Regions from separate parts of the Homo sapiens genome. Here all the other regions are linked to region 3. The links come from fine-mapping of genetic effects on gene expression. A gene starts in region 3. Each other region holds a variant in brackets. All regions are shown on one strand. Distances are from middle to middle.

The links. PIP is the estimated chance that this variant, and not a neighbour inherited with it, causes the effect.
Region 1: its variant is fine-mapped to the expression of FBXO38 in whole blood (TOPMed, PIP above 0.99).
Region 2: its variant is fine-mapped to the expression of FBXO38 in whole blood (TOPMed, PIP 0.98).

Annotation. Positions count from the first base shown.
Region 1 is chr5:148,405,344-148,415,737 of GRCh38, forward strand. It overlaps FBXO38 (F-box protein 38), which reads left to right. Exons shown (of 22, transcript NM_205836.3): 7 at 914-1,051; 8 at 3,781-3,874; 9 at 5,292-5,422; 10 at 8,793-8,963. Among named protein-coding and RNA genes, the nearest start is that of FBXO38, 27 kb to the left of the region's middle. The variant G/A (reference allele first, on the strand shown) is at 4,815.
Region 2 is chr5:148,181,892-148,192,285 of GRCh38, forward strand. No RefSeq gene overlaps it. Among named protein-coding and RNA genes, the nearest start is that of SPINK6, 16 kb to the right of the region's middle. The variant C/T (reference allele first, on the strand shown) is at 4,741.
Region 3 is chr5:148,378,194-148,388,587 of GRCh38, forward strand. FBXO38 (F-box protein 38) reads left to right here and starts at 5,765. Exons shown (of 22, transcript NM_205836.3): 1 at 5,765-5,846. It overlaps FBXO38-DT (FBXO38 divergent transcript), which reads right to left and starts at 5,657. Exons shown (of 5, transcript NR_105057.1): 1 at 5,306-5,657; 2 at 509-652. RefSeq lists an enhancer at 5,542-5,741.

The sequences.
Region 1 (10,394 bases), 27 kb after region 3:
TCTTCTTTTTCTTTCCTGCTCATCAGCTATCTTTAATATCAAGACAATTTTTCCTCTTCCAATGTGGCCCAAGGCAATTTTTCCTCTTCCAGTGTGGCCCAGTGATGTCAAAATATTGGACACCGCTGCACTAGAGCATTAAGTGGGAACTACTCTGCTTAAGGTCATGATAACCAGGACCCCTCTTGATAACCTTATTCTGACACCTTTCCAAGATATATCTTCTTTTATCATCACATTTGACTATTCATTGTTCCCTGGTCAGCCATACAGCTTTCCATCTCAATGTCTTCTCTTATGCTGTATTATTGTTTCGTTATCCTGAGATGTGCACTTTCTTCCTCTGTTTTTGTATGCGTTCTTCAGGTTCTGCCTTTTCCAACTTACTTTTCTCCTCTTTCTTTTTCTTTTTCATGGAGTATGGCAGATCTTATTTTTACACTTGATGCAGTCTGCCTTCTTATCCTTCTATAATTACTTATGTTAGTTCTAGCTCCATGTCAACTGCAGGTTTTTTGATGGACAGGACCATATCTTTTGTGATCTTCTATAGTAGCTAATGCAACACTGGTCATAGAGATGATTAAATGATTGAGCTGTTTACTTGAGTGAAGGATCAAATTTTTATCTTGACTTTTTCCCATTAGTTAGTTTGAGTTCAAAACTATTGAGCCTTTAGAGAATTTACGGAATACTACATATCTCTACAGTGTTACTGAAAAACCTTTATGCTGAGTAAGTGTATGGTTAATAGGCTAACACTTTCATTTGTAACAAGAACCTGATTTCAGAGAGCCAATTTGGCTGTCATTTTAAGACTTAGAGTTTATAAGTTATACATGTCTTTCACTGATTTGAAATTCATTTTAAGGCACTTTACATTGTTCTATCAAAGATTTTTTTTTTTTTCCAGGACCCACAAATTCCTTGAAATATGTCCCTTTAGTAACAGGCTTAGCCTCTGCCCGAAACTTGGAACACTTAGAAATGGTTCGAGTTCCTTTCCTTGGAGGTCTTATCCAACATGTTGTTGAAGACAGTTGGAGATCAGGTATTCATTTTCTTTAATTACTAAATATTTTTTAAAAATCAACTTAAAATAATCATTAAGCTTTTATTTAACTTCCCTGGCAAGTCTTTAAAAAGAAAATGCTCGTCAGTAACTGCTTTCTTTGTTGTATTTGATGGACAGTAAGTAACCATGAGCATAGCTAGTATTCATTTTCTTTTGGTGCACATTAAACTTTCTTAAAATAGACAGTAGAGTGATAAGACATGTTTTCTGGCTTGTTTTGACTTTTATGTAGCTAATAATACCTCCTCTTATGTATGGAATCTTTCTTAGAAATGTTAACAGGGATTTCTAGCGTTCTTTGGTGATGTTTTACAACTTGTACAGCCGAGGCTTCCAAAAAAAATTTAGGCATTAATAATGTTAATCTCTATCACATAATACTTTATAATATAAAAAATACTTTTATACATATTACTTGGATATTGATTTACCCATCAGATGATGATATTTAAAAGAAAAAAGTTGTTCTGTGTATACTTAACTATAGATAAATAATACGTAACAGAATGTGCTTTGTGTTAAACATCTCATTGCAGAAAAAAAATAGTGGTTTAGCAAAATGGATGATTAATAGTTGGAAACCAAAAACTTAACTTTGGCTCTCTAAAATAAAATGGAAAGTCATCAAGTACCATTGTTAACAAACAGACATTATAGTTAATACTGTTGAAATATAATGAAGAGTAAACACTACATTTCTAGACATTTTGTCAGTCAAGTGTGGTATAAGTGTACTTTATTACATTTAGCCAGTGGGATGAAACAACCCCTTAAAACCAACAGTATTTTGATTGATGGCGATAGTTAACAAGATAAAAGTCAAAAACGAAAAGAAGGCTACTGGTGTATTCACTAGAGAGAAGACCTGTAGAGAGGTGCTAAAAGCTGAGTTTGTATAAAGGTCCTAAAAGAAAAACAGAGACTTTTCTTCTCTAATCAGTTTTTAAGGGTGACCCTGCCTTGTATTTTACTCAAGAAGTCAACATACCTCACACAAAAATTTATTCTAGATGGGTCATAGATTCAGATGAGAACAATTTTGAAATGAAATTTAAAAAAATAACTTAGAAGAATGTCTTGTTGACCTTGAGTACACAAAGACATCTTAAACAGGACACCAAAAAGCATTTACCATAAAGAAAATATTGATAAATTGTACCAAATTAAAATTAAAATTTTTTTTTTTTTGTCCATCAAAAGGCATGATTGAGAGAGTGAAAAACCGGCCGGGCGCAGTGGCCCACGCCTGTAATCCCAGCACTTTGGGAGGCCGAGGCGGGCGGATCATGAGGTCAGCAGATCGAGACCATCCTGGCTAACGTGGTGAAACCCCGTCTCTACTTAAAAATACAAAAAATTAGCCCGTCGTGGTGGCGGGCACCTGTAGTCCCAGCTACTCGGGAGGCTGAGGCAGGAGAATGGCGTGAACCTGGGAGGCAGAGCATGCAGTGAGCCTAGATCGCACCACTGCACTCCAGCCTGGGTGAGAGAGTGAGACTCTGTCTCAAAAAAAAAAGAGAGAGAGAGAGTGAAAAACCAAGCTACAGAATGGGAGAAGCTGTTTGCAATACAGATACTGGGTATTGGGAAGATATAAAGGACTCCTGGAATGAATAAGAAAAAGGCAGGCAACTCAATAGAAAAAATGGGAGAAGACTTGAATAGAAAAGTTTGCACACAAGAAGCCAATAAACATGAAAAAACGATAAAAGTTTACTAATCGTTAGGGAAATGCAAATTGAAACTACAGTGTGATATTCAAGCACTAAAATGACTATGCCTACTCGTGACTAATATGAAAAAGATAAAAACAGTAATGTTGGCTAGGATGTGAAGCAACAGGACCTTTCATACACTGATGGTCAGAATATAAATTCATACAACCACTTTGAAATACTGTTTGGTAGTATCTACTAAAGTTGGTCATACACATAGCAACAGTTGCATTCCTGGCTTTAAACCCAACAGAAATGTTTACATATGTTCACCAAAAGACATTTTTAAGATTGTTCATAGAAGCACTGTTTCTAATCATCCCAAAATGGAAAGATGCCTATTGGCAATAGAATGGATAATTAAATTGTGGCATATTCATATAGCAAAATACTGTACAGTAATAAGTGAACAGACTACAGCTACACAGCGATATGGATGAATCTCATAAACAGAGTGTTTAGTAAAAGAAGCCAGACACAAAAGTATACAAACTTTGTGATTTTATTTATACAAATTTAAAACAGATAAATCAGTCATTTCTTTAAGCTATATATTAGTAATTTATGTTCTTTTTTGTAGGTAAATACAAGTTTCAGAAACATTAAAAAAATCAGTTAAAGTGGTTCTGGTCTTGTTCCATATGATATTTGGAGGTTCGAAATTTGGCCAGAAATGGCAGGGTTTCTTTTTTTACAATTCTCTCATCAGCTTCTGACTTTCTAAAAATCCTTACTTAACAATGTAAATCTTTTAGAGTAGTTTTCAGATGCCATCAGTGTCTTTGCAAAATGAGGGTCTGCTTTCATTTCCTTTTAGGTCACCAGTAGTTATAATTCATCTTAAGATATTAATTTCAATGCAAAAACAAAGCTTAGATTTACTTTTAAATCAGTAATTATCATCTCAGATAATACTTTATAATGTATAGTATATAAATACTTCACTAAAAATGCTATGGTCAAACACTTGTTTTTGTTCCTCGTCTTTAGGTGGTTTTAGAAATTTGCACACTATTGTTCTGGGAGCTTGCAAAAATGCTCTTGAAGTAGATCTTGGTTACCTCATCATTACTGCTGCCCGTAGGTATGTTTCCTCTTTGTATTGTGTCTCTCACTTTAGAAGTAATTATGTTTTTCCCTATTTTACAAAAAATTGTGGAATGTGTGTGTATATATGTGTGTACATTTGATCAAGCCTTGTTCAAATTTAAAATACGAAGAAGTCCAAATAACAGATAAGTATAACATCATGGTAGTCTTAATGTTATAACTGGTAACCAGTTGAGCTGCATACTAGCAAGCTCCAGAGTGGCATGGTCTCATATCAGAGAAAAGCAGTGGAATTTCTGGAAATGGCTGAGAGTCCAATAGAAGTTAGCATTGAAGCTCTGGTGTCTGTAGCCCTCTCAGGACCATTGTCTCCATCTCTGGATGATTTTCTGAATTGTTCTAGTTACTTGGTGATAATATTTGCTATTCAGAAATCAGTGTTTTAAATCAGCTTTTCCAAAGTCTGACCTTGTAACACCTCTATATTTTTTAACCAAGTGGTTATATCACTTTATGCCACATTTACTATTTCTTACATATCAATGGTCTACCTCCACTTTTATTTTATAATATTTTCTTTAAGCATTTTTAAAATTTATTCAGAAACAAAGCTTTTTCCATCAAGAGACTTGATTAGGATTATAAATAAAAGTGTTTCTAAGTTTAGGTAGGTATTGTTACCTACTACAGAATTATACTCTTTGTTAAAATGCAACATTAATAGCTAGCCTAAGCAAAATGTCAAATACCAGCACCAGATGCAGATTCTCACATTGACTCTTCAGGTTTAGTAAAGCACTTGAAAGGATATAAGATTCTTACCTGTAATTAATTGTTATTTAATGTATAGCTTCAGTGTACTGCTTAAGATTTCCTTACACTTTGCAGATACTCCTTTGAAGAAAATATTTTTTTTTTCAATGGAGGAAGTGGGAGGGAAGTTGTTGACATCTGTGACACTTCACTAAAGTCAT[G/A]AACTTCTTTCAGAGTCTTACTGATATGGTTTGGCTCTGTTTCTCCTCAGATCTCATCTTGCAGCTCCCATAATTCCCATGTGTTGTGAGAGGGACCCAGTGGGAGATGACTGAATCATGGGGGTGGTCTTTCCCATGCTGTCCTCATGATAGTGAATAAGTCTCACTAGATCCAATGGTTTTAAAAATGGGAGTGTCCCTGCACAGCCTCTCTTTTTTTGCCTGCTGCCATCAGGCAAAAATGTGACTTGCTGCCATCAGTCAAGATGTGACTTGCTCCTTTTTGCCTTCAGCCATGTTCGTGAGGCCTCCCCAGCCATGTGGAACTGTGAGTCCATTAAAACCTCTTTTTCTTCCCAGTCTCAGGTACGTCTTTGTCAGCAGCATAGAAACGGACTAATACACTTATATTAGGAGGAATCTTTGATTCTGATGGTTTTTGTTTTACTCTGATATGTTCTCTGTCTTTATTCACAGGTTACATGAAGTTCGGATCCAGCCTTCCCTAACCAAAGATGGTGTCTTTTCTGCCCTAAAGATGGCAGAGTTGGAGTTTCCCCAGTTTGAAACCCTTCATCTAGGATATGTAGATGAGTTTTTGCTACAGAGTAAGATTTATCCCATTTTAATTCCTAGAATTACTGTAAGAAATTTACTTGACAAACTGAAATCTGAATTGGGTTGTGCCATGTCTTTTTGAACATAAGACAACTTAAAATCTTAGGTGCTCTCACGTCTTGAAAAATAAACTTTTAAATTAGAAATGTCAGTGATTTTTTTTTCCATATTGCCTCTGATTTTAGCATATTATAGAAAATATAGTTACTAACAATACACCAGAAAAAGAACCTTATCTACATTTGATATTGTCTCCACTTTACTGCCCAAGTTTCTTTCCCATTCTGCTTCATTTTTTTCACAGAATGTCATCCTTGGTTCCATTGTTGAATTTGATCTGCCACACTTCTTGAAGCTTTTGATGGTCCTCTCAGATGAGGTCCCATTCCCTGCCCATGCTCTTCATTTCCATAATAAGCCCGCTGGGGGTTCTGGATTTTCCAGATAGTGTGAGCACATAATGGTCAGTATTCATTTAATGATGATTGCTGTTGGAAAGCTTGTTCACAGCATTTTCTTACCCATTTACAATTGAGAACTCATTTCTTTGGGTTTGAATGCATGTCAATTCATTACTCAAACTATTTTTCCATATGGCATCAATAAGATATGAAAGAAAATTTTCATCACCAACATGCTTTTATTTATTCAAGAATTCATTTTCTTCCCACCTGATTTGCAACAAGTCTTTCTTGAACTCTCATCCTCATAGCAGATAACATTTTTTCTTTGGATCTAGTTTGTATTATAGAAGAACATAAGAAGGCTTAATTCTTCCATTCAGGACAATCCAGCTCAAAAAACATGACTGTTTTTCATTTCTAATATATATTACAATAATAGTTGTGGGTTTTTTGTTTGTTTACTTTTTTGTTTTTCACAGTACTCATTAATATAGGTGATTACTTTAAAAAGTCAAGCCATCCTTTTCTAGACAGTTTACTATTAGAATCATGTTAAATCTGTATAGCTTTGAAAAAGATCAGCTTTTCTCCAAAATAGCTTTAAAATGCTAATGAGTACAATGATTTTATATAAAATTAATACATTTGATATCAAGCTTTTCTGGTTTTGAATGAAGTATCTAACATTCCCTATGTTTCTGCAATGTCTGTATAGTAACAAAATTATTAGCTTTGAAATTGATATTCTTTCTATAATTTTGTTTTCTATTTTTCCCAAAAGCTCAGAACTTGACAAATTGTGTACCTTCAGGATGGCCAAATTTAGGTCTACTGAAGAATTGTCTTCAAGTGTTAACTTCATAACCAATTATTTTCCTGTAGTGTTTCTTTCTCCTCAACATATGTTTTCAATAGCATAAAAATACCTTCTTGACTACCATTATCTCGTAGTTTTCAACACAACTTGTTTCATGTTCTGTTTCATACTTAATAGTCTGTTATGTTGAACTTTGTACATTCATTTTCTTATTTGCCACAGTTTAACCATTTCTTCCATATGCATACTATCTTCTGTCCCTCCAAAGATGACCTAGGATTCTCTGTTTCAGAATAGGTGCCTGGTACTTGTTATGGACGATATCATGAGGTCACTGCTCACTCACACTCTCTCACTTAGTTTCTCTCTTCTCAGTAATTTAGATTTGAAGCATCTCTCCAAGAAGTGGTGGCTGGCCTCTGGTAAAACTTGAGTCACTTTCTTGTTATAAAAGGTCTGGCAGAATAAATAAATAGAAACATCACCTTTGTCTTCTGACAGTGACCCAAAGATGAATCTTTAGAGAGTTCTTTGTTCATGTGGATTTATGATCTGTAAGCTTTATATAATACTGATAGAGACGTATAACTCAGTGAAAATTTCAGAAACAATATAGTCCTAGCCCTAGAGTTCTAGCAATTTAGTCCTAGAGCTTGAGGGAGAGAGAGAATTGAGGCCTGTCTGCTACTAATCATGAGACCTAAGCAAGTTAATTCTCATTTTTTAAATGAAGATAAGGTGGTATCCTGCTTTTCTCTTGGGTAGCTCTGAGGAACCAAGGGAAAAGTGATGTATACATTTACAGTAATCTCTGACACTTAGGAAGTATTCAATAAATGATAACTTTTACCTTTAGCTCACCTGTGGGCTGAAAAGAAAAACAAAAATGAATCTCAAGTAATATCATCAGGATTTTGAAAGGAGTGTGTCAAGCAGGAAGCCCCAAGAGTAGAAACATGGTGTTCATCTCAAAAAACTAAATGCAAGACATCGATTTGTCATGTTAGGTTACAGCATTTATTCAGATAGTGCCCAGGAAACAGGGTCAGTTCAAGGTTTACCCTATCTTAAGGAAAATGGTAAGTTTCATCTGAAGTCCTAAGAGCAGGGAAATGATCCTTACCAGGAGCTAAAGAAAATAGTTCAGCTAAATTGTAAAGGATGGATTAAGGTGAAATTTGTAAGATGTGCCAGGAGATACCAAATATAGGAACTATAGGAGAAAGACTGTCAACTATATGGAAAGTAAAATTGGAAGTTTGGAGAAGATGGATTGTTTTTAACATGTTGTAGCTAAAGTTGTAAATCCCTGTGATATTCAGGGCAGCTTCACCAGAGTGGCAGTGTTTTTTTTTTGTCCTGCATATTGGTTGATTGCAGACTGTGAGAGACGTATTCCCATGAGCTCTTGTATCCCCAGCACTATGCTAGACACTAAAGATGTAACTATGAACTAACAGAATCTTGGAGCGTGAGGGGGCAGGCAGATGGGAGAAATGATAAGAGGCAAGGGATGAGGTGTGATTCTTAGTGACATGATCTAGAATAAAGGATCCTCCTTTACTTATTCCCAAACCCCTAGTTTGTGACCAGAGAGTAGGCACTAAAGCCCAGTGGCATGTGTTTGAGTTAGAAGTGCACTTTTAGGGTATAGATAGATGTTACTAACCAGTGCCATGGGTTCTAACAATGAATCTTAAATTCTCAGAGTTTACCTTTCTCTACACATGTCCACACTGGGCTCCAAGAACATCATTTTATTGTAAGGGAGTTGAGTTTTTAAGATTTTGTTTTCCTTTTAAATGATAAAGCTAAAACTTTACCATGGTATGAACCAGTATGATAGATCCTTCACTTATGCTTTAAGAATTTTTGCCTTTTCTCTTCTCTAAACAATTGGAAATAATTTTTCCTACTAGCTGTCCCTTGACTTTTAATATAATTTATTATTTTGTACAAGAAGTGCTACCATATGTACGGAATACCTAACCTAAAATTATACCTGAACCCAATGATAAGCAGATGATACAGAATGATGGTAGAGACTTTTTATACTGACTGGTAAGATACAAAGTTGGTAACACTCCCTAACACTTAAGAATTTGACTTTTTTTTTTTTTAATTGATTGCTCTTTTTAGGCAGAATGGCTAATGCGGATCTGGTGAAGTATGGTTTGGCTGATGTGGTAGAAAATCCTGGTATCATCACTGATATAGGGATGAAAGCAGTCAATGAAGTTTTTTCCTGTATCAAATATCTGGCAATTTACAATTGCCCTCATCTACACAACCCATACAATTGGATCTCAGGTATTACAGACTTAAAAATACAGCTATGTTTTATTGATACTGAAATAATACAACTTTCCATGTTTTCTATGTGTGATATGATTGCATTCCTAATGTAAAATGTAGGTATTTCATTTGGATTGTTCATACAAGTTCTGGTAACCTTTGATAACCAAGTTGGAAGTATATTCAATGCCTCTTTAAACTTCTGACGTTCTCTGCCTAGAAGTGTATACTCTCCAGGTTGTGGATTCAAGTGCCCTGATTTTTATATGTACTTCTTTGGGCTAGGAACATAAAATTAAGGTTAGTTCATTGTTACCTAGGACTTAGGATATTGTAGTTATTTTCTCAGAATTATCTTCACAATAGCACATCATCTGAAAGGACAAAGTAGGTATGTATGTTGAACTTTAATTAAGTGACATTAACCTGAGATAAAAATTTCTATTGACTAGAAATCCCAGTCTATTTCAGATCTCCCCCTCCAATCTCCTATATGTAGAAGTGTGACTTTTGCACTTGATATTTTTCCCTTATGGTGGGAGTTCATTTTCCTCTCAGAGTAATGTCATCTGTTTTCTTAAAGGCCCTTCTTAGATACCGAAATTTACAAACCATTAAATAAATTGAGAGCCTGAAAAAGTTGTACTTGTGACAAAGCCTCTCACTGACACCTACAGAACAGCCTCCTCTGCTATTGAGTCACTTGACCGGGATCTGTATCTCCTCACAAAGCTACTATCCAGGCCTATTTTAGGGCTCTGGGACCTCTGCTGAGATCACTCGTTAATATAGTCATGTCTCATGTGCCAGCAGCAGTTAAATTCTATCCCTGGCCCTGCTGAACCAAGAAGTTATTGGGAAATATGAACTTTAGGATGTAGCAGGCGTAGATGACTTTAAAAAAATAACATTTATTGGGTTTTTGGTTTGTTTGTTTTCTTAAATACAGAAGAGTATAAAGAAGAAAACAAAAAATGGCCTATAATCCCATCACTCAGAATTCCTGTTAACACTTAAAAAAATAAGTAATACATGCACTTGATAAATTTCAAACAGTACAGAAAGGTACAAAATGAAAACTCTCCTCTTCTCAAAGGTAACCATCATCAACAGTTTTTTGTATATTTTTCTGGACAAATTATGCATATTGCAGCATATATATGTGTAGCATTTAAAAATGATTTATATTATACCAAAGGATCTTACTCTGTATACACTGTCCTGTAGCTTGTTTTTTGTACTAAGTATAATTTGGAGAGTTTTCCATGTCAGCAAGCATATTAAGCTCTCCTTAATTCTTTTGAAATAGCTACATAATGTTCTATTAAATAAATATGCCATAATTTTTTAATTCAGTGTCCTATTGTTGAAAAGCCATGTAGGTTGTTGAGTGGATCACATTTAAATCAGGGCTGATTGGATTCAAATTAATGTTCCCCAGGCCAT
Region 2 (10,394 bases), 200 kb before region 3:
TTCTCTATTTTTTCTTCAATTTGTTTCGTCACTGTTTTATAGTTTTTTTGTATATAAATCTTTCACCTCCTTGATTAAATTTACACCTAAGTGTTTTCTTTTTTGGTTGCTATTGTGGATGGGATTAAAAAATTTTTTTGGATAGTTCATTATTCGTTTATAAATACTAATTTTTATATGTTGATTTTGTATGCTGCCACTCTACTAAATTTGTTTATCTTTTCTAGTAGTTTTCTTTGTGGCATCTTTAGGGTTTTCTATATACGAGATCATACCGTCCACACACAGAGACAATTTCAGTTTTTCATTTCCAAAAGTTTTCATTTAATTTCAACAAATAAAATGATTTTTGTTCTATGGTAACTTTGTTTTCATTTTATGTGTGTATGTGTGTATTATGTGTAAACATTTGTGTGTGTGTGTGGCAATAATAGCTAAAATCTACTAATTTAGCATGAATCCCAATGTAGTAATGGGTAATTTTATTACCCGTAGTTCTCATGTTGTATATTAGATCTCTAGACTTATTTATCCTACATATGGGCTATTTTTTAAAATATTTTGACCTACATCTCTGTATTTTCATACCCTTCCACACCAAACTTACCCCTGATAAACACTGTTTTGTTCTCTATTTCTGTGTATTTGAATTATTTTGAGTTTCACATATAAATGAGATCAGGCAATACTTTTATTTTTGGGTCTGGCTTATTTCACTTAGCATAATGTCCTCCAGACTCATTCATTTTGTGGCAAATGGCAAGACTTCATTTGTTTTAAGGGCTGAATAATATTCTATACATTCATACGTGTGCCACAGTGATTTTAATCCAGTCATCCATCAATGAACACTTAGGTTCTTCACATATCTTGGCTATTGTGAATAAGGTTGCAATGAACATGAAAGTGCAGATATCTTTACAAGGTCATGATTTCTTCCTTTTTGGATATATACTCAGAAGAGGGACTGCTGGGTTACATGGTAGTTCTATTTTTAATTTCTTTTGGAACTCCGGTACAGTTTTCCACAATGACCTATTAATCTACAGTCCCATCAACAATGTTTCAGGGCTCCCTTTTCTCCATACCCTTGCCAAAACTTGTTACTTCTTGTATTTTTGACTATATATATAGATATATGCACAAATACATACATATATATATATATATATATATACACACACACACACACACACACACACACACACACACACACACACACATATATATTTGAGATGGGATCTCACTCTGTCACCCAGGCTCCCAGGCTGAAGTGCAGTGCAGTGACACAATCATGGCTCATTGCAGCCTCCACCTGCTTGGGCTCAGGTGATCCTCCTACCTCAGCCTCCCAGGTAGTAGGGACTACAGGCGTATGCTACCACAGCCTGCTAATTTTTGTATATTTTGTAGAGACGGGATCTCACCATGTTGCCCAGGCTGGCTAGAACCCCTGGGCTCAAGCGATCTGCCTGCCTCAGCCTCCAAAACTGTTAAGATTATAGGCAGGAGCCAATGCACGTGGCCCCTTTATATATTTTGGATATTAATTTTTTATCAGATATATGGTTTACAAATACTTTCTCTGAATATGTAGGTTCTTATTCATTTTGTTTATTGTTTCCTTTGCTGTGAAGAAGCTTTTTAGTTTGAGGTAGCCCAACTTGTATCAATTTTTTCTTTTTCCTTTTGGTATGATATCCAAAAAATCATTGCCAAGGCCAACGTTAAAGAGCTTTTCCTCTATGTTTTCTTCTAAGAACTTTGGGGTTTCAGGCCTTATACTTGGAAGGTATTACAATAGATCCCTCAAAAATAGAATGGATAATAAGGGACAATAGAGAAAATAATTTCTTAGAAAATACAGCCTACAAAGATTGAGTCAGAAAAAGTAGAAAGTCTGAAAAGTTCAATAACAAATAAGGAGACTGAAGTGGTAATTAAAACCTCCCAATGAAGAAAAGCTCAGGACAAGATGGCTTTGTAGCTAAATTTTACCACATATTAAGGCAGAATTAATACTAATCTTTCTTAAATTTTTCCTAAAATAGAACTAAGGAAATACTCCCAAACTCATTATATGAGTCCTGGTATCACCAGCTCGATATACCAAAGTCAAAGATACCACAATAAAAAAAAATGACAAGCGATTCTCTGACGAACATTGATTCAAAAATTCTCAATAAAATATTGTCAAAAGGGATTCAACAACATGGCGTGGTGGCTCACGCCTGTAATCCCAGCACTTTGGGAGGCCGAGGCTGGCAGATCACGAGGTCAAGAGATCGAGACCAACGTGGCCAACATGGTGAAACGCCGTCTCTACTAAAACTAAGAAAAGTAGCAGGGTGCAGTGGCAGGCGCCTGTAATCCCAGCTACTTGGGAGGCTGAGGCAGGAGAATCGCCTGAACCCAGGAGGCGGAGGTTGCAGTGAACCGAGATCGTGCCACTGCACTCCGCCTGGCGACAGAGAGAGACTCCGTCTCAAAAAAAAAAAAAAAAGTACATTATGACCAAGTGGGATTTATCCTTGGCAAGCAAGCCTGGTTTACCATACACAAATCAATCACTGTAACACGTCACATTAACAGAATAGAAGATAAAAACTTCTTTACCATCTCAATTGATGCAGCAAAAGCATTTCACAAAGTTGAACATTATTTATTGATTCAAAGCTCTCTATAGTTTAGGTATAGAAGGAAAGTTCCTCCACATACTAAAAACCATCTTTGAGAAAACCACAGCTAACGTTATAATCAATGGGGAATAACTAAGCTTTTCCTCTAGGATCCAGTACCAGGCAAGGATGCCCACTCTCGTCACTTTGGTTCAAACATATTACAGTACTGGAAATACTACAAAGAGTAATCAGACTAGAACAAAAAAGAAAAAGGCATACAAATCAAAAAATAAAAAAGTAAAGTTATTTCTAATGGCAAATGACAAGATTCTAAATGTAGAAAACCCCAAATACTCCACAAAAAAGCAGTTAGAACGAATCAATGAATTTAGTAAAATTACTAGATACAAAATTGACATACAAAAATTAATTGCATATCTGTACACAAATCATAACCTATATGAAAAATAAATGAAGAGAACAATCCCATTTTCAAAAGCATAAAAAATACTTAGCAAGAAATTTAAGCAAAAATGTGAAAGATTATACACTGTAAACTACAAAACATTGATGAAAAAAAGTGAAGACACAAATAAATAAAAAGATACCCCTTGCTCATGGATTAGAATATTGTTAAAATGTTTGTAATACCCAAAACAATATACAGAATTAACACAGTTTCTATAAAAATTCCAATGAAATTCTTCACAGAAATAGAAAAAAAAGTCCTAAAATTTGTCTGGAACCACGAAAGTCATCGAATCGTCAAAGTAATTCTGAGAAAGAAAAATAAAGAGGTGTAACACTTTCTTATTTAAAGTTATGTTAAAAGGCTATAGTGATCAAAAGAGTGTGTAGAACAGGCTTAAAAACAGAAACATTTCAATGGAGCCAAATAGGAAGCTGAGAATCAAAAGGTCAGGAGAGGGAAAGGATAATCTCTTTAGTAGATAGGGCTGGAAAAACCGGATTTCCTCATGAAAAGAATAAGGTTGAACCCTTATCTTAGACCATACACAAAAATCAAACAAAAATGGGTATATTCAAGATTTTCCACATTTTGTGATCTAATAGACATCCATACTATTTGTGTAAGACCTTTGAAATCAGGCTTCGGCAAACAATGATTTATGATTTCTTCTTACTTAAAAATATTTCTGGTTCAGTGTACCTTATATGAAATATTTGGGATGAGAAGTGTTTGGGAATTTGGGTTTAGTTTTTTGGATTTGGGAATATTTTCAGAAAACCCAGTGGTTGAGCATCCTTAATCCAAAAATCTGTGATCTGAAATGCTCCAATGAGCATTTTCTTTTGAGCTCCATGTTGGGGCTCAAAAAGCTCCAGATTTTAGATCATTTTGCATTTCAGATTTTTCATATTATGCACGCTCAACCTGTACTAAAGAAGATTATGCCATTTTAATGACTGGATAATATAGACATATAAACCTAATATAACTCTGAGGTGAAGTATATCCCTTCCAATGTCACATTCATTAAGTAAAGAGACATGGAAGAGATGCAGATTCAGTAGAGATCATAAGAAATTTAGTTTTGGATATAATGAATTTTAGGAAAAACTGGGACCATAAAACGAAAAATGTATATACCTTAGAATAATGAAATGACCCTTCTTAACTTTTCTTTTTGAGCAAATTCCTGTATGACTACAAGTAATAATAAAAGAATATGTGTGTTGTAGTGGTGGTGGTGGGGGCCTTGCTCAGTTTCTTCAGTTGGCTGAACATTTTCTGGCAATGAGAAAAAGGGACACATAAGACTATTAAGAAAATATAAATATGTCAAAGGTATACTTTTTTGCATAATAATAACTTAGCTTCTATGATTACTCAATCTCCTCCTTCGTCAGTGTTCCAAGGGAAACTATGACTTGTTAGCATTATGACTAAGTGTTAGGAGAGGAAATGCCCATATTGCAAAGTTGCATCCTAAGCAGTCAAGCAGAAGTTTGTGGCTTTCTTTCTGTGAAACTGACTCTTACAGAATGGCCCTTGACTAAGGGGAGAAGTCATTACACTCTTTCCCAGGACTCTCTACTTCTCCTACCTAAGACATTTATAATTATATGGTTAAGTGACTACTTCTTTTGTCTTCAA[C/T]ATAAGAATGTAAATTCTAGGCGAGCTGATATTGTGTCAGTTGGGTGCTTTTGGACTGATTCTAGGAAATAGTACTGTCTAATATCTATATTAGCTATAGGTATATTATCTATATCTAATATCATGAGCCAGATATTGCACAATAAGAGGAATCAGCATTCTGATCCAGTTCTTCAGCTCACTTTCTGTACAACTTGGGAGAATTCATTTAATCTTGCTAAGCATTGGTTTACTCGTGGGTAAAATAAGCTTGTACCTAATAAGCACCTCACAGAATTGTGATATTCAAAATGAGATAGCACAGTAAATGCACTTTTTAAAGTGGCATACTCATGTAAAGAAGTTGAGGAATAGCTTATTTTATAGAGAAAAAGATTTTAAAAATCAGTTTTTCTACTTTGCTTACTTTTCCTCAAGTATTCTTGTGTTCTGCAATATGATCTGAGGTTTGAGTTACAACTCTTGTCTGAGATATTAAAGCTCAAATCTTTAGCCTGTGACAAGTAGAGCACTGAATCTGCTTTTTAAAAACTTTAATAGTAAAATGGCATAATTCAAACAGCAATCATTACAATAAACTTCGTACTATAATGTCTCCTTGTACAAGAAGATGAAAAGGTATTAAAAACCACATTACAAAAACCAATTTAAAAATTAAAAAAACATACAAAATATGTGAAAAATATAACAATTAAATGAAAAAAGTGAAAGTTGTCAATATTAATAGGAAGTAAAGCTGAATACAAACCAAAGAACATTAAATTTATTTCCTTTAGCATCCTCATTCTCAGATAAGAAAGCTTCCTTTGTGACTGAGAATATAGAAGCAATTCCAAAAGATCTACAACAGGTTCCCACCAGCACATCAGCATCCATACTGTACTCTTCTCTGTTACTGTGGAAGAGGTCTCCATGTCCCTACCAAAGACTAACCCTGAACATTTTCTTTTATTGAAAGAAGGAAGATCTGAAATCGATAATCTCAAGTTACATTGTGAGAAACTGGAAAAAATGAGGAAATCTTAACAAGATAAGCATAAAAAAGAAATCATAAATCACAAAGGGGGAAAACAATTAAATAGAAAACAGAAAAGCAGTAGAAACAGATCAATGAAACCAAAAGGTAGTTCTTTGAGATTGATAAAACTGATAAACGTGAAGTGACCAATCAGAAAAAAAAAGACAGAAGACACAAATCACCAATAAGAATGACAGAGGTAACAACTCTAGAGTTCTTATATAAATTAAAATAATAATAAGGAAACATTATGAAAAAAATTATATCAACTATTTTGTTAATTTAGTTGAAGTGGAAGAATTCATTTAAAGACATAAACTACCAAAATTCACTCAAGAAGGAATTAATTTATATAGTCCTACATCTCTTAAATTAATTGAATTTCTAGATAAAAATCTCTGATAAGAAACTCATTGGCTCTGGTGCCATCACTGGTTAATTCTACCAAAAATTTAAATAAAAAAATACTGATTCTATACACATTCACATATAATATTAACGAAAAGAGAACACTTACTAAATTATTCTATGAAGTTGCCATTAACCTACTAACAAATAAAAAAAGACATTAAAAGAATAAATAAGAAAAGCAACTACTGCAGATAAATGTCCCTCATGAACAGAGAGGAATGTCCTAAACAAAATTTTAGCAAATAGAATCCAACAATATATAACAAGGACAATTAATAATGAGCAATTGGGGCTCAGGCAGAAATGCAATGTTGATTGACATTTAAAATTCAACCAATATAACTCAAGGTATTGGCAAACTAGAAAAGAAAAACCATGTGATTACTAGTGAAAAACAAAAACATATTTGACTAAAATTCAACATCAATTTCTTGTTAAAGCAAACAACAACAGCAATAACTCCCTGCAAATTACATATGGAAGGGAATTTTATTAACGTGATAAAGGGCAGCTATAGAAAACTTGTGGCAAACATCATAATTATGAAAACTCAAATGTTTTCCCCCTTTAAACAAGTACAAGATGAAGATTTCCACTCTCACTACTTCTTTTCAATATTTTGCTGGAGGTTTTAGCCAGCACAATAAGACAAGAGAGAGAGAAAAAAAAAGAAAGAACAGAACAAAACTTTCAGATGGGAAAGTAAGAAATAATACTGCAATTTTCTTTATTTGAAGATGAAATGATGGTCTCTGTAGGAAATGTGATGCAATCCACAAAAAAGGATACTAGATCTAACAAGTGAGTTTAGCCAGGTTGGAAGATATAATAACAAAATACATTAGAGGATATGGCAACAAAATACAAAATACATTGTACTTCATTTTACAGTTTTATTTTTAATCGACAATGACAATATATGTATTTATAGGGTATATGATGTTTACATTATGGAATGATTAAATCACGCAAATTAACAAATCCATCATCTCACATACTTATTTTTTTGTTGTGAAACAAAAAATCTAATCTTTTAGAAATTCTGGAATATGCAATGCATTATAAGTTATTATAGTCACTGTTTTGTGCAATAGCTCACTAAAGCTTATTCCTCCTCTCTTACTGAAACTTTGATCATGTTCCCTTTCCCCACCTAACTGCCTCCACCAGCCTCTTGTAACCACCATTCTACTTTCGAAACAAATTGTATTTCTATAAACTAAGAGCAATCAGAAATTTAAATGAAAATAATTCTAACAGCATCAAAATATGAAATCTGTTGAGCTTGTAAATGTCCTATACATTAAAATTTTTAAAAAAGCATTGTGAGGTAAATTAAAGGAAACTTAAATAAATAGAAAGATATGCCTTTTTCATGGGTCAAAAAAATCATTTTTGCTAAATATCATTTCTCCTCCAAATTGATTTATATGTTCAATGCAATTCTTACTAAAATTCTAGCAATGTTTTATGCAGAAATTGACAAGATTATTCTAAAATTCATATGGAAATCTAAAAGTCCTAGCATAGTCAAAACAACTTTGAAATGGAGAACAGCATTAAAACTAACATTACCATTTTTCAGGACTAATTATAAAGCTATAGATATCAAGACAGTATATCATTGGAGTCAAGATAGAAAAATTGATCAAAAGATCAGAATAGAAGGTCCAAAAATAGATCTATATACATATAAAAATGATTTTATAAAAAGATCTAAAGACAATTCAGTGGAAAAAAATGCTTTTCAACAAATGCTGCAAAAACAATTGAATGTACATAGACAAAAACAATGAACATCAATTATAAAAACATTAATTTAAAATGGATCCCTGAACTAAAATCAAAACTATATAACTTTAAAAATTATGATTTTAGAGTAGGTAAAATTATTAGATATGACACGAAAAACATCATCCATTAAAGAATATTTTGTAAATCAGACTTCATCAAAATTGAAAACTTCTGTTTTTCAAAAAAACTCTAATCGAAAAAAACAAGTTACAGGGTGGAGAAGGTACTTTCAAAGCACATATTTGATAAAGAAGAATTTGTATAATGCTCTTTAAACTTAACCAAATATAAATGAATGTTATCATGTATAAAAGATTTGAAGTAGACATTTCATCAAAGAATATACATGGATGGAAATAATCCACCATAGCATGGTGGCTACAGTCCAGAAAGGTGCATACCAAGAGGGAGCATCCTGACAGCAGGGGTTCCCAGACAGCCAGGTGCATCCTCTGTGGCTTTGTATGATCTACCCTCCCTTTTGACACAGTCTAGTGACTAACACAATCCTAAGCCCACCCAGATTCAGGGGCATTAACTATAGACCTCACTTCTCAATGAAAGGAATATAATCAGTTTTGAGACAGTTTTAAAATTGCCACACTGTGATAAATTAAAAGTCAGATCACGTGCTGCCTAAGCCTGTCATTCTAGAGGAAAAGATTGGAAAGAGTCAGAGTGAAAGTGTATTTTGGCTTTTATTTTCTTATTTTACATGATAGGATAAGAAAAAGAACTTAGGCAGGTATTTGGAGACTTGTAATTAGAAATTAAAGGAAATGTAGAGAATACTAAGAAATGTGATGCCGTAAAGGAAATTTAAAAGCTATTTTCTTCTAGACACCCAAAAGTAAGAAATGCTTTTAGTAACAAAAACCATATGTATTTTCTGAGTTTAAAAAAGGTTTTCAGGTTTGTTGCCATGATCATATTAAGACTGTTGACTTCTCACCTAAGCTTATAGTTTCAGATGGCCACAAACTATCTGCCATTAAATTTAGAAACAGAGGTAAAAGAATAAAGAAAAAAAAAGGTAAGCTTCAGAATTGTGGCTAGAAAGAACTTAGGACACTTTTAAAATAGTTACTGGTGTATGGAAAAAAATTAAACAAACAGTTAAGGAACCCTCTAAATGTTGAGGGATTTATATTGTCAGATAAACAATAAGCCAAGATTAAAGAAACTATGACCTTCAATAAATTTTCAAGACCCAGAAAATGACCATAAACAAGTAGCCTTTGAAGGTAGTACAGCCCCAAAAAGTAAATGTGGTTTTCTAACTTTATCTCAGTTTGGTTTTTGGTAGAAATGCAAGAGCCTATCAGAGGGCACAGCCAGAAACGACCAAGAACAACTGACAAGGGCATTATTTTCAATAACAGAATCAGAGTCTTATCAAAAGCTATATGCCACTGCCAGCCCAGGGTGTCTCTACCCTTCCAAGTAAGCAATTTTTATCAGTGCTATGTGCCAATGACATCTATATGTATCTCATTACACTTTTTTTTAATGAGAGTTTAAATTATGATTATCCTGTTCATATTCCTCTACTGTATAAAAATCATGGGGGAGGGGTGAGGAGTTGATAAGTCTCCATAAAGAGCTACTTTTAGAAACCTTGAACTTTCTGGTGGTTGCAATGACTGGATAAGACTTTACTTGGTCTCCTTTGAGGGGCAGGGTATATCCCACATGTGGACAAAAGGGTGTGCACAGTTTTTTATTGGTCACGGGGCCTAATTGTCTACAAAACTCATACTACAAAACTATAATATAGAACATTTCTGGGAATTGGAAGTCTAATAAGGGAATCTATTTCTCTGTCCTTTTTGCATATGGTGTTACTATATGCCTAATTCTCAGCAACAATGAACAAAAATGTTGTATTCCACTTTTAAGCCACCTTTAAAGAATCACAATATTTTATTCTTCTCACCACTTTGATGCAAATGAGCAGGGCAAATTTGAGCCATGTATTGAAAATGGAAGAGCCAGAAATGAAAGGAGACTGGGTATCTCCATCACTGCCTGAAGGCAAACGGCCTGTGAATTAGGGACAATCATGGGGATGTTATGCAATTGAGAAACAGACTTCTATCCTCTACAAATTATTACACAAAGGGGTTATTTGTTGTATCAGCTGGGATTACCCTAAGTAAAACATTTGTAATAAAAGGCACAGTGCAAAATTTACCTGCATTAGGGTATGGAGATAAGGGAGTTATTGGGTCATGCTAGCTTTAGAAATTAAATCATGCAGGCATTGATGATTCCACTCAAAGTAGTTATTTTGCTTTTGTTACTTGTTCTAGTGGCTGTAAAGGATACTGGCATGTATCAAGTAAACGCTACCCTTACAGGCAATATTGTATTTTAAGTAATAAATAACTTAATAGTAGACATATAGTCATGATATGCCACATGCTATATG
Region 3 (10,394 bases):
TCCTAACATCTTTGCTGTCTTTCCTCTGGTAATCAAACTAAAACATCTGAACTAGAAGTAGTGACAGAGAAAATATGATTAGATTAGTCTTAGTCTGTTTTCTGCTGCTAAAACAGAATACCTGAGACTGGGTAATTTATAAAGAACAGAGATTTACTTCTTACAGTTCTTGAGTCCAGGAAGTAAAAGTTCAAGGGACCTGCATCTAGAGACTGCCTTCTTGTTGTGTCATCCCACAGCAGAAGGTAGATGGGCAAGAGAGCAAGAAAGAGAGAGAGAGTGTGCACGTGAGAGAGAGCATGAGAACGAGAGCAAGTGAGAGAGAAAGGGCCAAACTCCAAACTCCTTCTTTTATCAGGAACCTACTCCTCTGGTAACAGCATTGATCTATACATGAGGGAGGGCTCTCACGACCTAATCATCTTTTAAAAGTTCCACCTCTCAACACGATTGCATTAGACATTAAGTTTCTGTATTAGTCCATTCTCACACAGCCATAAAGACATACCTGAGACTGGGTAATTTATAAAGAAAAGAGATTTCATCAGGTCATGGTTCTGTGGGCTGTACAGGCTTCTGCTTCCTGGGAGGCCTCAGGAAACTTACAATCATGGCGGAAGGTGACAAGGAAGCAAGCACATCTTCACATGGCCTGCAGGAGAGAGCAAGCAAAGGAGGAAGTGATACATGCTTTAAAAGAATCAAATCGCATAAGAACCCACTCACTTTCGTAAGAACAGAAAGCAGGAAGTCTGCCCCCATGATCCAATCACCTCCCACCATGCCCCTCCTCCAACACTGAGAATTACAATTCAACATGAGATTTTGGTGGGGACACAGACCCCAACCATATGAGTTTGCAACACATGAACTTTGGGGAACACATTCAAACCATAACACTGAAGGGTAATTTTTTAAAAAGAAGTTTACTGAATTTGCTTTTTCACTCTTAACCTTTTCACTTCCTTGTCACATAAACATGATCTTGTGCAGTATAGCACAAATTAAAAATGAACTGCAGTGTCCTTAATTTTTAATATTGTTTAATGGTCACTCAGAGTTCATGCTTATGGAAGTGTAAAAGTCTTCAATGCAGGCTTTTGTTTTTGTTTTCTCTTAATCTACCACCATGTGTTGGTTTTGAAATTGCAATTCTCTATGTATACACCTACATACAACAGCCTTTCACAGAATTTTCTTATGTAACTTGGGAAAAATTAGGGCACTTTGAAAGTAAACTTCAGAAATATCATATGCTAAGAATTCAGCCCTTATCACTTCAACTATCTAGAAATAGCTGAGAAGCAGGAAGGAAAAGAGGTCTCTGAACAATCAAATAATAACAGCTAACATTTATAGAGTGTTTGCTGCCTGCCAAGCACTGTTCTATCTGGATTACAAACATTACCTCACAAGAAACAAATGAGGGTGAGGATGTGGAGAAATTGGAACCTTTGTACACTGTTGATGAGAATGTAAAACAGTGTAACTGCTATGGAAGAGTATGGTGGCTCCTCAAAAAATTAAAAATAGAATTATCCTATGATTCAACAATCCCACTTCTGCATCTATATGCCAAAAGATGAAAACAAGATCTCAATAAGATATTTACACTCTCATGTTTATTCCAGCATTATTCATAATAACCAAAATGTGGAAGTAACCCAAATGCCCATTGATGGATGAATAGAAAATGTGATATATACAGGCAATGGAATATTATTCAGCCTTAAAACCTTGAGGACTTCATACTAAGTGAAATAAGTCAGTCACAAAAAGACAAAGTGTGTGAAGCTACTTCTATGAGGTATTTAATGTAGTCAAACTCAGAAACAGGATGTAAAACTGTGGTTTCCAGAGCTAGGGTAGGAGAAAATGGAGAGCTCTTGTTCAATGGACATAGAGTATCAGTCTCGCAATGAAAAAGTTCTAGAGATCTGCTGAACAACGTGAATATGGTTGATACTACTGAACTGTACACTTAAAAATGGGCTCAAAAATTTTTTTAGCTCCCACATATGAGTGAAAACATACAGTGTTTATCTTTCTGTGCCTGAGTTATTTCACTTAACATAATGTCCTCCAGGTTCATCCATATTGCCTCCAATGACAGGATTTCATCCTTTTGTATACATATTTTGTGTATATGTTCCACATTTTCTTTATTCATTCATCTGTTAATGGTAGGGTGAATACAGTTAATGATAGTTTATTGTATATTTTCAAGAAGCTAAAAGAGAGGATTTTGAATGTTTGCAACACAAAGATGATAAATGTTTGCGGTGAATGGATATGCTAATTAGCCTGCTTTGATCATTATAGATTGTATACATGTATTGAAATATCACTCTGTATCCCATGAATATGTACAATTATTATGCATTAACTAAAAACTAAAAATGAATGGAAATACATAACTAAAATGGTAAATTTTATGTTATGTGTTTTTAATCACAATGAAAAATAAACAACAAATAAATAACATAAAGAATGAATTGATAAACAAAATGTGAAATATATATGCAGTGGAACATTATTCAGATTTAAAAAGGAATTAAATTCTAAATACATGCTACAACATGGATGAACCCTGAAGATATTATGCTAAGTGAAAAAATTCAGACATAAAATGACAAATATTGTTATGATTCCACTTATATGAGTACCTAGAGTGGTCAAAATCATAGAGTCAAAAAGTAGAATGGTGGCTGCCAGGGACTGGGGGAAGGAGAGCATAGGGAATTGTTGTTTAAAGAGTTTCAGTTTGGGAAGATAGAAAAGTTATGATGATTGGCGGCGGTGGTGTTTGCACAATAATGTGAATGTGCATAATTCCACTGAACTGTATACTTAAAGAGGTTAAAATGACAAATATATATATTTTGCCACAATTTTTCTTAAAAAATAATGTATGACATTATTCATGCACAAATGCAAGACTGGGCTGGAGGGACTACAAGCCTTACTTTTTGATGCTTGTGCTAATATTCATACATCCAAAAATCTAAAAATTAAAAACAATGAGGTAGTGTGGTAAATTACAGATGGCCACAAAGTCTTTGCTACATCTTCAATTAAGAGGTGGACTCTTATTCTTCTCTTGAATCTGGGCTGGCTTAGTGGCTTTTTTGACCTAACACGACGTGATGGAAGTCACTCCTGGGACTGCAGAGGCTACATTATATGAAGTTTTGTAGCTTCCTCCTGTTTTGCTTGGAACAGCTCCCTTTTTTCCCATTCTACCTCCAAGTGCTCCCTGTCAAAACCCAAACACCACGGTATAAGAAACCCAAATCAGAGGGAAAGCCCAAGTGTAGGCACTCTGATAAATAGCTCCAACTGAGCATCTAGAGATCAGCCAGCCTCAACTGCCATCAATATAACATCTATTAGAGGCTGACATTAACTACAGCCCCAGTTTGATATCTGACTGTAAATGCCAGAGACTGCAAGCTAGGACTGCCCAGCCTAACCCAGTTACCCTACAGAATCAGGGCAGATAAAATTTTTAGCCACTAAATTCTGGAGTGACTTGTTACGTAGGTACCATAATGTCTATTTTAAAGAAACCTGAACCTTAGAGCTGAAGTGATTGCCCATTGTCTCTCTGCCAGTAAGCAGAGGAACTCACAGTTAACCAAGTCTTTCTGGTTCTAAAGCCTGCATTGCTGACTACTAAATACACAACTTCTCAGTCAAAACAGCTACAATAGTTTTTTTTTTTCCTTTTTACCTTCAAAAAAAATCCTGTATTTGAATTCATAGTGGAGTTCTGCCATATACGCCAAGTCTAAGGGTAGTTAAGAATAGCCTTGATATGCATAGCACCTTCTGCAGTTGTGCACTGAACAGGCTCCATAGCCATATGAACCTGTCCTGAGCAAACTCCAACCACTATCCCTGACCAAAACTTCTCTTGAGTATTAGTCATCATTTTAACAAAGGGATTATCTGTTGTTTAGGTACCTAAGGAATTTCAAGGAAGAACACGGGCTGATACTAGAACTCATGGAAGAATGAAAAGAGATACTTTAGAATTTAATTAAAAAGTGGGGATTGAAAATTAAAACAACACAGCGGTTTAAGGTCATTTACTGTAGGGCAAACTTTCCTGCAGCGCTCAGGGACCCCATGATGGTGCCACTGTACAGGAGAAATACTAACTCAGGACCTTTTTAATGAAAACCTGTAACATCAAGGTACAAATAAATCCTAGAGATGAAGGGATACATATAACATGCTCTACCTGAAAATGTTAAAACTAGTTTTGATATCTTATTATATATAACACTCATAGCAGTGAGAAAATATCTTTAACATTTATTACAATGATTTGTGGTAGGAAATTTTCTAAACTTGAGGTAGGAAACCTTTCTTACTCATGAGTATTCATTTCAGGTCCCACTACAGTGCTTTTTACAAAAGGAGGAATGCTAATAAAATGAAAATCATATTCCATTGAATTAAAAATTCAGGCCAATTGTGCTGAAATAAATCTTACTGAATGCCTTCTAAATATGCCATGCCCTGCACTAGAAACTTTCGTAATTCCTATTTATTCTTCAGAATAACCTGGGAAACAGAAAAAGCTAAAGTCTGTTTCCTTTATTAAAGTTTGAATATGAAGAAACCGACAGAAGCAAATAGCATAAAAATTCATTTTTGTCTTCAATTACAGGAAGAATGTAACATGAAAGCTGAGATTACAATGAATAGTACATGAATATGATGAGGTTTTGTTTTGTTTGTCCTACCAGAGCTCCAAATAAAAACACAGATATATGGTTTGACATACGGAATGGGATAGCTAAAACTGTGACTGCCTAAGACAAGCTGAAACCTAAGGTGCCGAACCATATTGGGGAAAGAGGGGAAAAACCAGTAGGTCTGCTATCAATCAAGAAAAGAATAAGAAGAAATGGGATTCCCAAGCCTTCTTCAGCTTTTTCTTCTCCAGCAGAATAGCCTAGTCAATGCTACGTCTTGTCAAATTGTGTCTCACATGGCTTTAATGCACACTAACTTTCCTAAGAAGTATTTGTATCTATTTAAATCTAGGGATTTTAGCCCATATTAATTACATGTATATTAGGGCAAGAACACAGGATGTAAAAGGTAAAAATCTGAATTTCAGTCCATCTGCGAGACATTGTGAAAATCAATTACACTCTCTGAAGACAATTCCTTATCCATTAAACAACAGAAAAGGTGATTAAGTTGATCCTTGCCTACATGTCAGAGTCGTGTAGAGTTTTTAATGACACTCATGTGAAATTCCTTTGGACTGTAAAATACTATTACTTACGTGCAAAGATAATGTCCCGAAATCACAGAAGGGATGACTTAACATTAACATCTTTAACTGCGCCCCCGTCCTTCCTCTCAAAAAAAAAAAGTTCTCTATTTTTAGTTGAATGATTCTGGGAAAATCTCTATTGGAACCTATCGACTTCGCAAATGACAAAGGCGAGGTCCAGAGACTTATCCAAGACCCCAGAGTACCAGTGGAAATCAAGACCAAACCACACGGTGGAGACTGGTTCCGACGTATCAGACTCAGTGCTTCCGGCATGGCGCTTTAGTGTCAGGTGAAAGAACAGCAACCCGCCCCGCTTCTCCACCCCTGACAAGCCTTCCGAAATGCCACGCTGAACATGGCTGCCGCGCTTCGATGCTTCTTCACACACACAATATGGACACGGGTTTGAGGCTCCAGCCCCGGATGACAACACTCCGGAAATATGCGAGCGGCGGCGGAAGCGGAAGTGCCTCAGCGGTAGGGGCCGGGGAAGTGTCTGTAGCGTCCCTCCCTCTCAACCACAATAACAGGCGGAGGGTCGGCGTAGGTGAGGCGGCGGCTGAGTGGGCCTGGGGACCGGGAGCGGGGTGGCAAAGCCCGGAGTGCGTGCGGCAGGGCTGAGGTAGCTGGGTGGGGATTCTGGAACTTCCGACCGCTTAAGCTCGGCCTCTGGCCCCCTTGGGGCCTAGAGCTCCTTGAGAGATCAGGGGTTGAATTTGTAGTTCCTGGCCTTCTAGGCCGTGCTTGCGGGGGTTGCCTGCTTGTCTGAACCTGGCCCCAAAATCCAGCATAAAGAACTCTCTCTGGGCCCCAGTTTCCTCAATGAAATGGGTGAGGGTGTTGGACTGGACAGCTTCTGTGACTGTCTCCCACCCCGGGCGTCACGAATTTCATGATTTTAATGTTAAGTCGGTGTTTCGGCCAGTAAAGTGAAGGAGGTCTGTGTTCAGCGTAGTGAGGAGATGTCCCTGAGCAGGAAGCAGTGAACACATCTTTGGCTGCCACGCCTGAGTATCAGGAGCCCTGAATTCTAGTTTCACCCCTTCCACCTACACACCGTGTGACCTTGTCTAGGTCCATTAGCTTTTCTGTGCTGCAGTTTGCTTATCTGTGTTGGATGCCTTTGATGTCCGTGCCCTAGCTGTGGAAATCAGATTCTTAACTCCCTTTTCATGGAGTCTTTACAGACCTGAAAAGCATATTCTCCCTGCACTCTGCACACCCAGAATTTGACTAAGAGATGTCTACCGTGTTTCTTTGCAGACACCAAGCTGGCCAAGGGCAACTGGTCACTTAGGAAGGTTCCTGTGCAATGAGAAGCTCTGTCCAGAAAACTTTGTTTTATACACCTAAACCAGCAGTGTAAATCACTACAAAGTGAAAAACAGGAGACCTTGATTTTTGTTCCAAAGTTGCTATTAACTTGATGGTTTACTTTGGCCAAATCCCTTCCTCTCTCTGAACTTGAGATTTTTTTATCTGCTAAAGGAAGACGTTGGATTAGGTCACTGGTTTTTAATCCCCTTTCCCATTCCCCCAGCACAAGTGAAGGATAAAATAATAGTTCTATAAAGCCATGATTTTCCCAGGGAAGGAGGAGGTCCAGTCTGGAGGGTATGTATTACATAGGCATAGACTGAAAAAAATCCGCTTGTAATTTTTAACTTTCATTTTGAGAATTAACATTTTAGATTATCTGTAAGCCTTCTTTCCCCTCTTTAAAATATGTGATGCTGTAATTCTGATGTCCTCCTTGGGTAAAGAATGTAGAGTTTTGTGTGCCTCTTTGTTTAAATGGCTGTGTGCCCAGAGGTACACACTTTATATTTAGTCAAACAGATACTAATGCATAGCAGAGGAGAAAAAGGGACAACTAGATTCCAGTAAGATAGGGTGATATAGTGAAGTAAAATTGGTGGTATACTAAAATGAAATAAGGTGGTATAGTGAAATAAAATTAAAAAGGAGTTGAAGACCTGTATCCCTGCTTCACACTGGTACATCCTGCCTCTGTGACTTTGGACAAGCCATCTAACATCTCTAGGCCTCACTTTCCTTATCTGTAAAACGAAGGGTTGAGCTGGATGATTCCTAGGCCTTTTTCAGCACCATCATCCTGTTGGGGGGTTTTTGTTTTGTTTTGTTTGTGTGTGGTTTTTATCTGAGCAGTTTGGTTTATGTGGTGTGGTATTTCTTTAGACAAGAGAGGCTGTCCTGGTCAGTAGATACACAAGATAGTCTATGATGTCAATTAAGGTCTGTGAGGTCAAATTAAGTGATATGCAAGATTACTTTGATATGAGCAAGCTGAAACCAATAGAAACTAAAGAAAGGCATGAGAAACTTGAAGGGCAGGGAAGCCCTTGACCAGATAGGATCATTGAGAATATAGGGAAGTTTCAAGTGAGAGGGGGTATTTTTCACGAGGGTAAAGAAAAGTAATTTGAGTTTGGGATGGGAAGGAGATTTGAATTGACGAGATAGGAGAACACTTTTTGGAAACAACTCTGGTTTAAGAATGTGCTTGCAACACCAAGACAAAAGTAATGCTTCCTGTGGCTAAGGTCAGCTAAGCAGGCAGCCACAGAGTGACTGTAATATACCAAAGGTGGCCATAGACCACTGCATGGGAGCCTAAATTAAATGGACCATAAATCCTAATTGGTGAAGGTAGGGTGTGGTCAGATGCAGTTCTATCAGAGCATCTAGAAGCCTTTCTCCAAGCACTAGGGCATTGCTCTGGAATGCAGGAAGACAACCACAGTGACAGAGGACTGACTTGATGATAGAATGTTTACTGTAACCTGGGAAGTCTGTATCCCAGCCTGAACCTTGACACTATTTAATCTTGGGCAAGTGATTTGTCACCTTATCCTCTCTGGTTCTGTTTGTTCATCTTAAAAATTTGGGATCACTAGATGAGCTTCGATGTCTGTGAATATGAACCCCCTGAAATCGTGTATGTATTTCTGCTTGCATGAGTCTGGAAAACGGATGTGCCACTTTCATCGTATTCTCAGATGGGTTTGTGACCCACAAAAAATTGAGAACTGTGTGATTAGGTAGTGTCTCTGGTCCTCTTCAACTTTTAACATTCTGGGATTCTGTAATTCTGTCATTTCTGACATTTCCTTAAGGTTCAGAGTCTTAGGGTCTAGAAGTTGCTAAGCCTATAGGTAACACCTGGTACCGCAAAGTATAGTCTTTATATATAATACTCTCCTCCTTATTTATTCAGGCATAGCTCAGAGATACTGCAGGTTTGGTTCCAGACTACTGCAATAAAGCAAGTCACAAAGTTTTTGGTTTCCCTGTGTATATAGAAGTTATATTTTACAATGTAGTATAATCTATCAAGTGTGCAACAGCATTATATCTAAAGTAATGTATACGCCATAATTTTAAAGTACTTAATTTAAAAAAAATGCTAACAATTAATCTGAGCCTTCAGCGAGTCATAATATTTTTGTTAATGGAAGATCTTGTCTCTGTCTTGGTGGCTGCTGACTGATCAGGGTGGTGGTTGCAGAACATTGGGGTGGCTTGGCAGTTTCTTAGGACAACAGTGAAGTTTGCCTCATTGATTGGCTCTTCCTTCTAGGAAATATTTTGTTGTAACATGCGATGTATGATAGCATTTTACTCACAGTAGAACTTCTTTCAAAATTACATTCAGTTCTCTCAAACCCTGGTGCTGCCGTATCAACTGAGTTTATGTAGTATTCTAAATCCTTTGTTGTCATTTCAATAATGTTCACAGCATCTTCACCAGAAGTAGATTTCATCTCAACAAACCACTTTCTTTGTTCATCTATAAGAAGCAACTTCTCATCTGTTCAAGTTTTATCATGAGATTGCAGCAATTCAGTCACATCTTCAGGCTCTACATCCGATTGTAGTTCTCTTGCTATTTCCTCCACATCTGCAGCGACTTCCTCCACTGATGTCTTTTGTTGTTTATTATTTCAATCCTGCTCCTCCTATAACCACAGAAGTCTTGAATCCCTCAGAGTCATCCATGAGGACTGGATTCCAAACTCTTGTTAATGTTGATATTTTGACCTCCTCCCATGAATCACAGACGTTCTTAACAGCTTCTAGAATGTGTATCCTTTCCAGAAGGTTTTGAATTTAGTTTGCCCATATCCATCAGAGGAATCACAGTCTATGGCAGCTATAGCCTTAGGGAATTTATTTCTTTTTTTTTTTTTTTTTTTTGAGATGGAGTCTAGCTCTGTTACCAGGCTCGAGTGCAGTCGTACGATCTTGGCTCACTGCAACCTCTGACACCCTGGTTCAAGCAATTCTCCTGCCTCAGCCTCCCAGGTGGCTGGGATTACAGGCACATGCCACCACACCCAGCTAATTTTTGTATTTTCAGTAGAGATGGGGTTTCACTATGTTGGCCAGACTGGTCTCGAGCTCCTGACCTTGTGATCTGCCTGCCTCGGCCTCCCAAAGTGCTGGGATTACAGGTGTGAGCCACCGGGTCCAGCCAGGAAATTTGTTTCTTAAATAATATGACTTGAAAGTTGAAAGTTCTTGATCTAGTTGATCTATTAGCTGCAGAATGGATATTGTGTTAGCAGGCATGGAAACAATATTAATCTCCTTGTGTATCTAATGGACCTCTTGAATGACTAGGTCCATTGTCAATGAACAGTAATATTTTAAAAGGAAACTTTTCTGAGCAGTAGATCTTAGTAGAAGTCTTATTTAGTATACTATACTGTAAACAGATGTGCTGTCTTTCAGGCTTTGTTGTTCCTTTTATAGAGCACAGGCAGAGTAGATTTAGCATCATTCTGAAGGGCCCTAGGATTTTCAGAATGGTTAGTGAGCATTGGCTGCAACTTCATGTCACCAGCTGCATTCTCTAACAAGATAATCAGCCTGCCCTTTGAAGCTAGGCATTTACTTCTCCCTAGCAGTGAAAATCTGATATGGAATATTATTCCAATGGAAGGCTGTACGTACTGAAAATCTGTTGTGTAGTGTAGCTACTTTCAGCCGTTATCTAAGTTAGATCTTTTGGATAACTTGTTGCAGCTTCTCCATCAACATTTGCTGCTTCACCTTGTGCTTTTCCGCTATG